Linked DNA regions of Homo sapiens. The protein of the gene in region 2 interacts with the protein of the main gene of each other region in a pairwise test. Each region holds a gene or a part of one and is shown on either strand. Other genes may lie near its edges. The genes, in order: SATB1, USP16 and EXOSC10.

Region 1 (3,653 bases), on a different chromosome or scaffold from region 2:
TCATTATTTTGTAAAAATGATGTTTAAGAATTTATCTTTGAGGTGCGCTATAATCATTTGTTTCAACCCTGTGACTTTGTTTCTAAAAACTTCTTTGGTTAATTTTTTTTTTTATTTTAAAGCAATTATAATCAAGCACAAATTCTAAATTATTTTAAAAAATCATTTCCTAGTAGCCAACACAATCAAAACAAAAGTGAAAAAAGTATACAAGAAATATTTTTTTTTAAAAAAAGAATGTGAGGGTGAAACTTTAACAATTACAAAGTTAGAAAGTATCTCTGTACTACTCATTTAAAAAATATTTAGGAAAGCTCTTCTTTACCATTTTGTTGGCCCAGATACACATCTTATCATAGATAAGCTATTAGAATTCTAGAATCACATTTTTTTTTTTCCTAAACACAAGCTATTGCTTAAGGGAAACTGACTTGGACAGCTTTTCAAAAATATGAAAGCTGAATTTTTCCCCAGGTAAAAATGGAAACAAAAATCTTTTATACCTCACTCTACTAAGTACTATTTTAGCTTAGTACAAAAAAATCTTCTTTAATCCTGGTTTAGCTTTTAATATTATATCACACATTAAAATTCATAAAGTAGTTCATTCCAGGCAAAACAAACTACTGTTCAGCTCTTCTCCGCAAATAGCACAGGAGGTAAAATAAATGCAGTTGCTTTCAGAATAGCTTTTATCAAGGTAGGGTGTACTACTCCATTATTAAGGCGGCGCCGGGGAAGTAGTTAAGAATTGGAGCTTCTACTACTTACCCTCCCATGTGGGGATAGGGTGCAGCACTAGAGTCTGCTTTTTATTTCACTAAAATTGTGCCGCAGGACACACATTTTCCATAAAAACTCTATTTTGCTTCTTCATGGATTGCTGTATGCATTGAATCATGCTTTTAGATTTTACACGAAATGAACTCTATTTCAGCCTTGATTGGTGAACATCCTACTCTGATGCATGAAGAATTGCCTGCAAGCACACTGCTTTTACACAAGCAAAATTAAAGTTATATGTAGTTTTAATAATTGTGATAATAAACACTGACATTTATTAGTTGTTTATTATGTGCTGGACATTGTATTAATGTATATTAACTTCTTAACTTGCCTAACAGCCCGGAGGAGGTATTATGATTGTCCCATTTTAAAATTGAGAAAACTCCGTTAAAACAAACAGGTTAAACAATTTGTTGGTGGAGCAATGCTGAGATCTAAACTTAACTAGAAACCCAAAGTTATTTAGAGTTCATGACATTACCTGCACCTTCTTTACTTGAAAAAATTCTTAATTTTTAGAGCAGGCTGGACTTGTTTTTTGGTGGCCCTTTGATAAATCTAGCTCATTAATGTCTAATTTTTTAATAGCTATTGATTTTTGATTAAAATCCAATCTAAATTTATTTTTCAGGGTATAAAAATTATATTTTCTTATTAATGAAAATAAGAAATGTCCTCTTTTATGGATGCTTATTAGTGATGGAAAATATTTCCCACTCTCAAATTTTAATATATTAACACTGTCTTTAGCACCATGGTTTCATATTTTTAGATATTTCTTTCCTTCCAGGAACAGTATTATTTTCCAAATCTAGCCTTTAAAAGTCTTCCAGCTTTTAAAAGACGACAATTAATGGGATGCATTTTATAACCACATAAGCAACATCTTAAAATGATCTTCAAGGGATTCATAAGAAATAAAACTTTTACCAAGTGTTAAGTTCCTGCCTGTAACTGAACCTGAAATCAAGATGAACCTATGTTTCATTATATCGTAGAGGGATTTCTTGTAAAGAGACAAAATAGTGCAACTACCAGATTAATCATATACTGTTTATATTAACTTCATAAATTTTCTAAAGCATTGTTATGAAATAGCATACCTTTAGTAATTCTTTAGGTAATTACATAAAGAGATGTAAAAAATGAAGAATTACATAAAGAGATGTAAAAAATGAAGAAAAAAAGACTTTTGTGTAATTCATGTAAAAGCTGTAACTCAGTAATTATATGCTTTCAAACAGTCTTCATGGAAACAAACTGCTAAATTAATTTAACTCCAAAAGTCACACACCATAAAATGCACAAATCAAATTTTAAAAAGTATACCCTTACGGTAGAAATCATCACTTAAAATTCTGTAAAATATACAATTCTCAGATAATAATCATGAATTATTATTGTTCATAAAAATTCCTCTAATAAACTCATCAGGAAAATCTGCAAAGCTTATAGTGAAAAGAAACCTTAAGACCAAGGAAGCTGGGAGGACTGGGTTCTCCCAGATATTTTCATGAGACCAAAGTTTAAAAGGGGCTGTTCTCCCCACAATCCCAGAAATGCCATTGTCTAGTTTTCCCAACTGGATAATTTGTCAAACAAGTTATTTCATTAGGACAATGCTTTAGCACATGCTCCTCTTCCCATTCTAACAAGAAAACCTCCCATCCTCTATGACAAACAAAAAGATCTCCAAGTTTCACTTTTCCCTTTCTAAAATAAGTTTGCTTTTATTCTGAGGAGGTGGCTTGAAGTAGAGGAAGGAGCAAGAGACTTAGCAGAGGATTTGAAAACTCTGACTCAACCTTAAACTTGGTTTTCTCATTTTTCTTCTAGGGAAAGGTTGGTATGAGGATTCAATGAATTAATGTATTCAGCTGCTTTCAGAATAGCTTTTATCAAGTTAGGGTGTGAATCATTATCAGGTGCAAGATATTCTTATTTGTTGAATTAGAGCATGTAAGTTGTGAAAATGTTTGCAGCAACCAGGTCTGGCCCAGAGCCTATAGCCCAGGCAGAGGATGAAGCACAGGGCATAACTGTCCCTACTGGAGCACATGGGATACCTCTGCAGGGAGGCATCTCACCTGGACTGGGCCACCAAGGAGCTCTGGTGTTTCCTGAGGCTAGGTGTCCCCAGGTGGGGTCTGACTAGCCAGGAAGTCCTTTCTTGAAGATGACTTAGAATTCAAGTCCTTCAATAGTTTAGGTCCTTGTTATGGTATGTCCCAAGGGCACTCCAAAATCATCTTCTGCATGTTTTACACTCTATAAAGAGGTGGAAGAGAATCCAGTTTCCCAGGCCTTAATGGGGGCTGGGTTTTCTGTGAACCACTGAGGGCCTCTGCTTTTAACATGTGGTTCTTTAGAAAGAAATCAGGTTTCAGGTGCAACCCAAACCCAAGATTTGTCTCAAAATATGTTTCAAATCTCCTCATTTTGGGGGAAATGAAATGTATACTGATTTCACATGGACTCCTCTTTGGCAAAATGTAAAATTTAAAAAGACAAAATTTTGCAGTCTGTGTTATCTGTGGTTTTCTCCATTTTATCCTTTATTTTAACTCATTTTTAATATGCATACTGGTTCCAGTTTAAGCATCATTTCATTATTTCAACTGCTACAAGACAGCACTAATTCAAGTGCTCTATAACGTGTTTTTCCAAATCTAAAGTACTAATTTTGCATTGATAATACCTTTAATACCTTAAGATTTCTTAAAATTTAATTCATTTAATCATGGTTAAAGGGAAGAATGTGAACAAACTGGTAGTGATCTCCATTATAATAATATTAATAATTTAAAGATTTATATTGCAGCAGCAAAATAAAATTACACACACATACACATATCAGTTAGTCATTT
Region 2 (3,313 bases):
AAGAATTTATGGACATTTTAATCTCATAAATACCTATAAAATATCTTTGATTTTGCCTCTTACTCCACAAATTCTACAATATTTGTTATCTAGTACTTCATAGAAAAAGTTTACTGATCCTTGCTTTAGATGTTTGGAATGATTTTATAGCAAATCTGAATGCTTTAGGGGTCTAAAATGATTTTCTCCCTGTTAAAAATTTCTTCTTTTCTTTAGGTGAAAGGAAGCATGTTTACACCAATGCCAAAAAGCAGATGCTAATTTCTCTTGCTCCTCCTGTTCTTACTCTTCATTTAAAGAGATTTCAGCAGGTACTCCTTGTTACCCAAAATTTGTTTTAAATATGTAACACCTACTTTATTACCTATTTTTTTCATTACTGTCTCAACATACTACTTTGTTTCTTTGGTTTTCTGTTGTTTCTTAACTGTAATGTCAATGAAGTCAGAAAGGGAAAAACATAGGGGCTAGGCAGAGGCGCATGTGAAGATGGAGGCACAATCTCCTCAGATTTCCTAGAACTCATTTATGTCCCTCTTTTTAGTACGATTGGCATCTTACTTTTATTTCAGGTTAAAAAAAGAAAAAGACTGGTGTGTTACATATATCTCATGCTTAGGAATATTAGTGATTTTTTCTGTTTTGTGTGTGGCATCTTGTTTTTACGGACCCTTGATAAAAAGACATTGGTGCCTTGGATTGTCATCATTTTGGTGACCTCATCTTTTCTGGAAAACTTTTGCTATAGCTGTATAACTTCTAAACTGTGTTGCAAATTCCGAAAGTACTTTCAGTATCTTCAGAACGTTTTGCCTCTTGTGGTTGGTATGGGCTTGACTAATTGGGTGGGCCTTTATTAACAATTCACTAAGCTTGGTTTGAGCATGAGGCTGAGAGCGTGTGTTTCACAGAAAAGTATTATGCTATCGCTGAGTTTTAAGCACTCAGAACCTGTGGTCTAATCTGGCATTTCTGGATGGCTGAAGCAGAAACATTGAGAATTTTCTCACGAGAAAAGTTGTTTTTCTTCTTTTTGAAACAGTCTTGTTCTGTCACCCAGGCTGGTGTGCAATGACACGATCATGGCTCACTGAAGGTTTGACCTCCCAGTCTCAAGCGATCCTCCCACCTTAGCCTCTATAGTAGCTGGGACTATAGGTGGCTACCACCATGTCCAGCTAATTTTTTAATTTTTTTGTAGAGACAGAGTCTCACAGTGTTGCCCAGGCTGATCTCGAACTCCTGGGCTCAAGTGATCCTCCTGCCTCAGCTTCCCAAAGTGCTGAGATTACAGGCATGTGCCATCGTGTCCAGCTGGGAATAGCTTTCTTAATGTGTTGGTGTGTGTTTTTTGTGTGATACATGTGTACTTAGCAAAAGCAAACCAACTTGGAATCAGTTAGTGTTCAGGAAGAATTGAGTCTCCAAAGAAAATTGAACTAGGACTTAATGTTGATATTCTTTTGGACGTCGGAGGGGACTTCGGTTTACTTAACCTGTATTGCTTTTCCAAGAAAAGAAGTCAATCTGTTATGCTTCTCTTTTAGGCTGGTTTTAACCTACGCAAAGTTAACAAACACATAAAGTTTCCGGAAATCTTAGATTTGGCTCCTTTTTGCACCCTTAAATGTAAGGTAAGTCAAAGTGGTCTTTTTCAGGAAAGTCCTTTAAAGTCAAATTGTGGCTTACCTAATGCTCCAGTAGCAACTCACTTAAGTATGAAGTTGATAACACTTATTGAGTAGAGTGGGTCTTTGATCATTGTACCTTTATAATTTGAAGATTAGTGATGAATCATTTTGAAGAATGGGTTATTTCAGTTCAACGTTTGGAATCCCCTTTATTATGGCATACATTGTCTTGTGAGCGGAGGGCATAAAACTAAAGGTGAGCAGATCTATTAATGAATAATCTGTTTAATGTGGTTGAATGTTAAGGCTGGTGAACATAGGTCAGGAGTGGTATACACTTAACCCAGCATGTTGGTGGTTCAGGAATGGCTTTGTAAAGTAAACCATGCCTCAACTATATTTAAAGAAGGAGTAAAAGTATGATGAATCAAGATGAAATGAGTTTTGCAGGCAGAAGGAACAGCAGGAGTAAAAACAGCAGTGTAAAATAGGATGGTGATTGCCAGAGACTGGTAACGTATGTAGTTCTAGAGTTTATAGTACAAGGTTATAGGGAGAGTTGAGAAATGAAGCCAGAGAAGTGAGATAGGAATGAAGTTTTGGAGGGTTCTCATGGTGAGGAACTTGGACTTCATTAGGTATACAGTGGGGAGCCCTGAGGAGTTTAAAGCACTGGGGTGGCATGGTCAGATCTTCATATGACGTAGGTTACTTGTTGATGTATGAAGGCTGAATTTTAGGACGGAAAGACTAGAGGTGGGGAAGTGAGTTTGGAGGCTGTTGTATTAATTCAGCCAGTAGTTGATGAGGGCTTAAAGTTGGGCAGGAGATGGGGAGATAGAAGGAATATTTCAGGAGGTAGAATTAACCAGACTTAATGATTGATTGGCACTGTAAGGTGAGGCAGAGGCCTTTTATAAGTGGATGCTGAGGGTGGCAGAGAAAGGGTTGAGGATGATTCCTGAGGCCTGGCACGACAGATGGGAGTGCTGTAAATTGAGATAGGATATATAGGGAGAAAAGCAGGTTGAGAAAAGCAGGTAGAGAAAGGATAATGACTTCAGTTTTAGATACATTTGAGTGTCAGATACCTTTGAGAAATTAATGTGCTTAGTCTAGAAAACATTTGGATATACATATCTGAGACCTATAGCAGAGAGGTTAGGATGGGCCCAGGGCACAGATTTAGAAATCAGTACATATGTGGCAGTTTAAACTATGAGAAGATGGGATCCCTTGTGTATAGAGTCTGAAGAGAGAAAAAGGAGATGGCCAATGACAGGACCCTCCTAAGTATCTGAGTGGAAGAGGCAGGGGTAGAAAGTGAGGACACCACAAAGGATCTCAAAGAATCTCCATGTTGAAGAATTTGGGGCTGGGCGTGGTGGCTTACGCCTGTAATGCCAACACTTTGGGAGGCCGAGGCGGGTGGATCACTTGAGGTGAGGAGTTCGAGACCAGCCTGGCCAGCATGGTGAAACCCTGTCTCTACTGAAAATACAAAAATTAGCCAGGCATGGTGGTGTGCGCCTGTAATCCCAGCTACTCGGGAGGCTGAGGCAGGAGAATTGCTGGAACCTGGGAGGCAGAGCTGCAGTGAGCCGAGATTGCGTCACTGCACTCCTGCCTAGGTGACAGAGCAAGAAACTCCCTCAAAAAAAAAAAAAAGTCTGGGCCAGTTG
Region 3 (3,653 bases), on a different chromosome or scaffold from region 2:
ACAGCGAGGCCGGGACCATGACACTCAGGGAAGCCTTGGCTGTGAGAGCACCCCTGTCACGATGAGGGGCTAGGGCTCATGGCTCACATAAATGAATACATAGCGATCCTGGTCCCTGTGGGCAGTCTGAAAACCAGGCCCATTTCTCTCAGCTCTAGTCCCAGGACCTTAGGGGCAGGTGGCTACAGCAGTGGCCCCCGCACATAAGGAAATCCATTCTGATCTCTGTGCTGGGTGATGCCATAAGGAACTCGGGCTCTGAGGCGACACTCCTGTATAAAGGGCCATTGTGTGGACTGGCCTCTGCTTTCTCTTTTCCAAAGGAGCATGTTGCTCCGAAGGCTGCTAGAGTCGAGAATGCCATCTGTAGCCCCTTCAAAGCAGACGGACTCTCACAGCCCAAGCAGCCATAGGGGTTCATGTCATAGGCTTTGAGATTTTTCAACAAACAAAATTCTGTGTGTGTGTGTGTGTGAGAGAGAGAGAGAGGGTTTATGGGCACAAGTTATAGTGAGGAAGGATGGCGCCCTGGTCACAGTGGAAGTGACAGGTGATCTTGCTAACCCACCATGGAGGCCACCATGAGTTGAGCTCCCATGGAGGAGGTGGTAATGAGGCTGCAGGCGACTGTCCACATTGCCACGGCCTCTCTGGACTACTCCAACAATTCCTGGCTAGCACCATGCCTTGTGCAGGACTCACTTGGCCCCTATATTGTGGTCTCTTTATGGCTTCCTCCCCTCTGACGCGCACAGATGTCCCTGTATGGGGCCCCATTACTTCCTCACCAGCAAAAGCCTTGAAGTCTGACTGGCTGTAGTCGTAAGGCGTAAACTCTTTTTCTGGTGGCTCTGGGTCCTTTGGCTTCTTGGAAATTTTGAGTCGTTTCTTCTCTTGTTTCTGTTCTGTGGTCCTTGGGTCGCTTGTTGCTCGCTCTCTCTTCTTTGCAGCATTTTCTAGCTGTAGATCAGGAACAGATGTGGGGGAGGAACAGGGAGGCACATGGGAACAGGGAACTCCACCGGCCTCAGCAATAGCTGGGACCCAGCTGCCTAAGTGGTAAGAAGAACAGTCAGTGGTGGGGAGAGGAGCTGTGGCTGGAACTTCGGGACCAACACTCAGGGTCAGCTGAAACAAATTCCTCACTGGACAATGACATGAGGTCATTTAAGAAAGGCAAGCAGGCCAGGTGCAGTGGCTCATGCCTATAATTCCAGTGCTTTGGGCGGCCTAGGTGGGAGGACTGCTTTAGGCAGTCTGAGACCAGCCTGGGCAACATAGCAAGACCCCTATCTCTACAAAAAAAAAGAAACAAATGTAGCTGGGCATGGTGGTGCGTGCTTGTAGTCCTAGCTACTTGGGAGGCTGAGGTGGGAGGATCACTTGAACCCAGGAGTACAAGGCTGCAATGAGCTATAATTGCACCACTGTACTCCAGCCTGGGCATCAGGGTAAGAGTAAGACCATGTCACTATTTTTTTTTTAAAAGGAAATTAAAAAAAAAAAAAAAAAAAAGGAAAGGCAGGGGGCAGGGGTTAAGAATTCGAGTGATAGCCTGGGCAATATAGTGAGACCCCGTCTCCACCAAAAACAATAACAAAAAATAGCTGGGAATGGTGGTGTGTGCCTGTGGTCTAGCTACTTGGGTGGTTGAGGAGGGAGGATCGTTTGAGCCCAAGAGTTTGAGGCTGTAGTGAGCTGCAACTGTGCCACTGCACTCCAGCCTGTGCAACAGAGGTAGACACTACTTCAAAAAAAAAAAAAAAAAAAAAAGAGTTCCAGAGTGCTCTGGGGTTTCATTCTCTAGAATGCAACATTTTTGTAGGACACAGCAGGACACACAACAAGCTTCAGCACTGTAACCTCAATACCTTTTCTACTACTACAGTTGAGTGGTCTGGCATATTTACCATAAACACAGTGGAAGAAGGTTAAGAGGAATTACAATATCAATCTTGTGGAGGTTTCGGAAATGAGGTAGACACTAATAGCCAAGCTAAGGTGAACCGGAAAGAAGTCAGGACTTAATATAAAGCACAGGGCAAGCCCCCTAAGATATCCAAGGAAGATCCTGACCACAAGCAGGGGCATCGTTTTTCAAAGGAAAAAGGAGAAAAGCTGGCACATACCACGACCTGCTGTCGGACGGAGATGGCCTGTTCTGCTGCAGCTTTGCACGCCTCCTTTGCCTGTTCCCGGGCAGCTGCAAGGGAGAGAACTTGTCTCTGGAGTTGGTGAATCCAGCAACCACCCTCCCCTCCATCTCCATCCCCCTCCGACTTGGCCTAGCCACAGGGGTTGTCACGGCTGATTCCTCCTCCCTCTCAGGTCCCCGGTCCCCCATCTCTGCAGGACAGGCTGCCTCAGAGCTCAGGCTCAGGTGCTCTGCCCACCTTCAGCTACACGTGAGCTGATCCTCCCCAGCCCTGCCTGCTCCTCTTCTGTGAACCTAAATGCTCAGTGGCCTGTGGACCTGAGGGCGTTTAACAGGATCGTCACCATCACCATCGTGGACAAACCTGCTCAAACCAGCTACTTTGGCTGCCAGCAACTCCAGCTTTCCAGCTGCTCAGGACAAAACCTTCATCCAAGGTTCCCTTCCCTTTTCTCACATGCCACATCCACCTCATCATCAAATGCTGTCAGCTTTGCTATGGGACAGATCAAGGCTCTGACAGCTTCTCACCACCTCCTCTGCTCCCACGCTGGTCTCAAAGCCACCATCCCCTCTCGCCTGAGCCACTGCCATGTCTCCTATCCCTTCCTGGACTCCCATCCTGTCCTCTATAGTCTACTGTTGACACAGCAGCCAGAGTGCCACATGTCAGTCACTTCCCCCCGTCTGCTCAGCACCCTCCTGGCTTCTGAACTCAGAGTAAAAGGCAGCGTCATCCCGTGGGCCTCTGCTGGCTCCTTCCCCATCTCCTGCTCTTCTCTACCCGCTCTGCTCATGCAGGCCCACTTGCTGCTGCTCAGCATGCCCAGTGAACTAGCCCCAGGGCCTCTGGGCTCGCTGTGCTGTGGCTCCAGAACTCTTCTCTAGGTCACTGCAGGTCTCGTCAATGTCGCATTCATTAGACTGCCTTCTCCAACCACCAACGAGACAGCTACAGCACCTCCAGCACTCCCCACCAATCTCTCTGCACAGCACCTGCTGCCATCTGCCAGGATAGATACTGATTGCCCACCATCCCTCAGCAGAAGGGAAGCCCCACAGGGGCTTCATTCATCGCCGTATCTGGCACTTGGCTGAAACAGCGGGTGTGCAACAGCCATTCTTTAACAGCCGACTGAGTTGCAAGGAAGTGAGTGTTACCTGTTTGCTCAGCTGCCTTCTTCTTGACAGCTTCTTTAGAGTCTTTTTGTACTTGTACCTGGGCCAGCTTCCAGCGGTTGCTGATCTATAATGAAAGCAAATATAACAAAAAAAACCCTCCAAAGTCAGCCACCTAAGTCTGTCTTACTTTTCATGAGGTGACGAAGGGCAGGTTAACCTAAGAAGTACACACATTCTAAGTCATAAATTTTCAAATCTAAGGGCATGAAAAATAAATTTCATGCTGGCTTTATTGCTAAAATCCCTATTAAGGACAAAGTGCTACTGTCCTCCAGGCACTGGGCCATCCATCATCTCATTCAATCCCTCTGTAACC

The links.
Region 1: the proteins of USP16 (region 2) and SATB1 interact in a two-hybrid assay, tested with the Homo sapiens proteins (one large-scale study listed by BioGRID and IntAct).
Region 3: the proteins of USP16 (region 2) and EXOSC10 interact in a two-hybrid assay, tested with the Homo sapiens proteins (one large-scale study listed by BioGRID).

The regions. Positions count from the first base shown.
Region 1 is NC_000003.12:18,380,336-18,383,988, forward strand, and holds part of SATB1 (DNA-binding protein SATB1), read right to left. Parts: intron 1-3,653. UniProt on the Homo sapiens protein: Crucial silencing factor contributing to the initiation of X inactivation mediated by Xist RNA that occurs during embryogenesis and in lymphoma.
Region 2 is NC_000021.9:29,048,545-29,051,857, forward strand, and holds part of USP16 (ubiquitin carboxyl-terminal hydrolase 16), read left to right. Parts: intron 1-216; coding exon 217-311; intron 312-1,547; coding exon 1,548-1,634; intron 1,635-3,313. UniProt on the Homo sapiens protein: Specifically deubiquitinates 'Lys-120' of histone H2A (H2AK119Ub), a specific tag for epigenetic transcriptional repression, thereby acting as a coactivator.
Region 3 is NC_000001.11:11,068,771-11,072,423, forward strand, and holds part of EXOSC10 (exosome complex component 10), read right to left. Parts: intron 3,402-3,653; coding exon 3,317-3,401; intron 2,219-3,316; coding exon of another isoform or gene 2,204-2,218; coding exon 2,130-2,203; intron 961-2,129; coding exon 789-960; intron 1-788. UniProt on the Homo sapiens protein: Catalytic component of the RNA exosome complex which has 3'->5' exoribonuclease activity and participates in a multitude of cellular RNA processing and degradation events.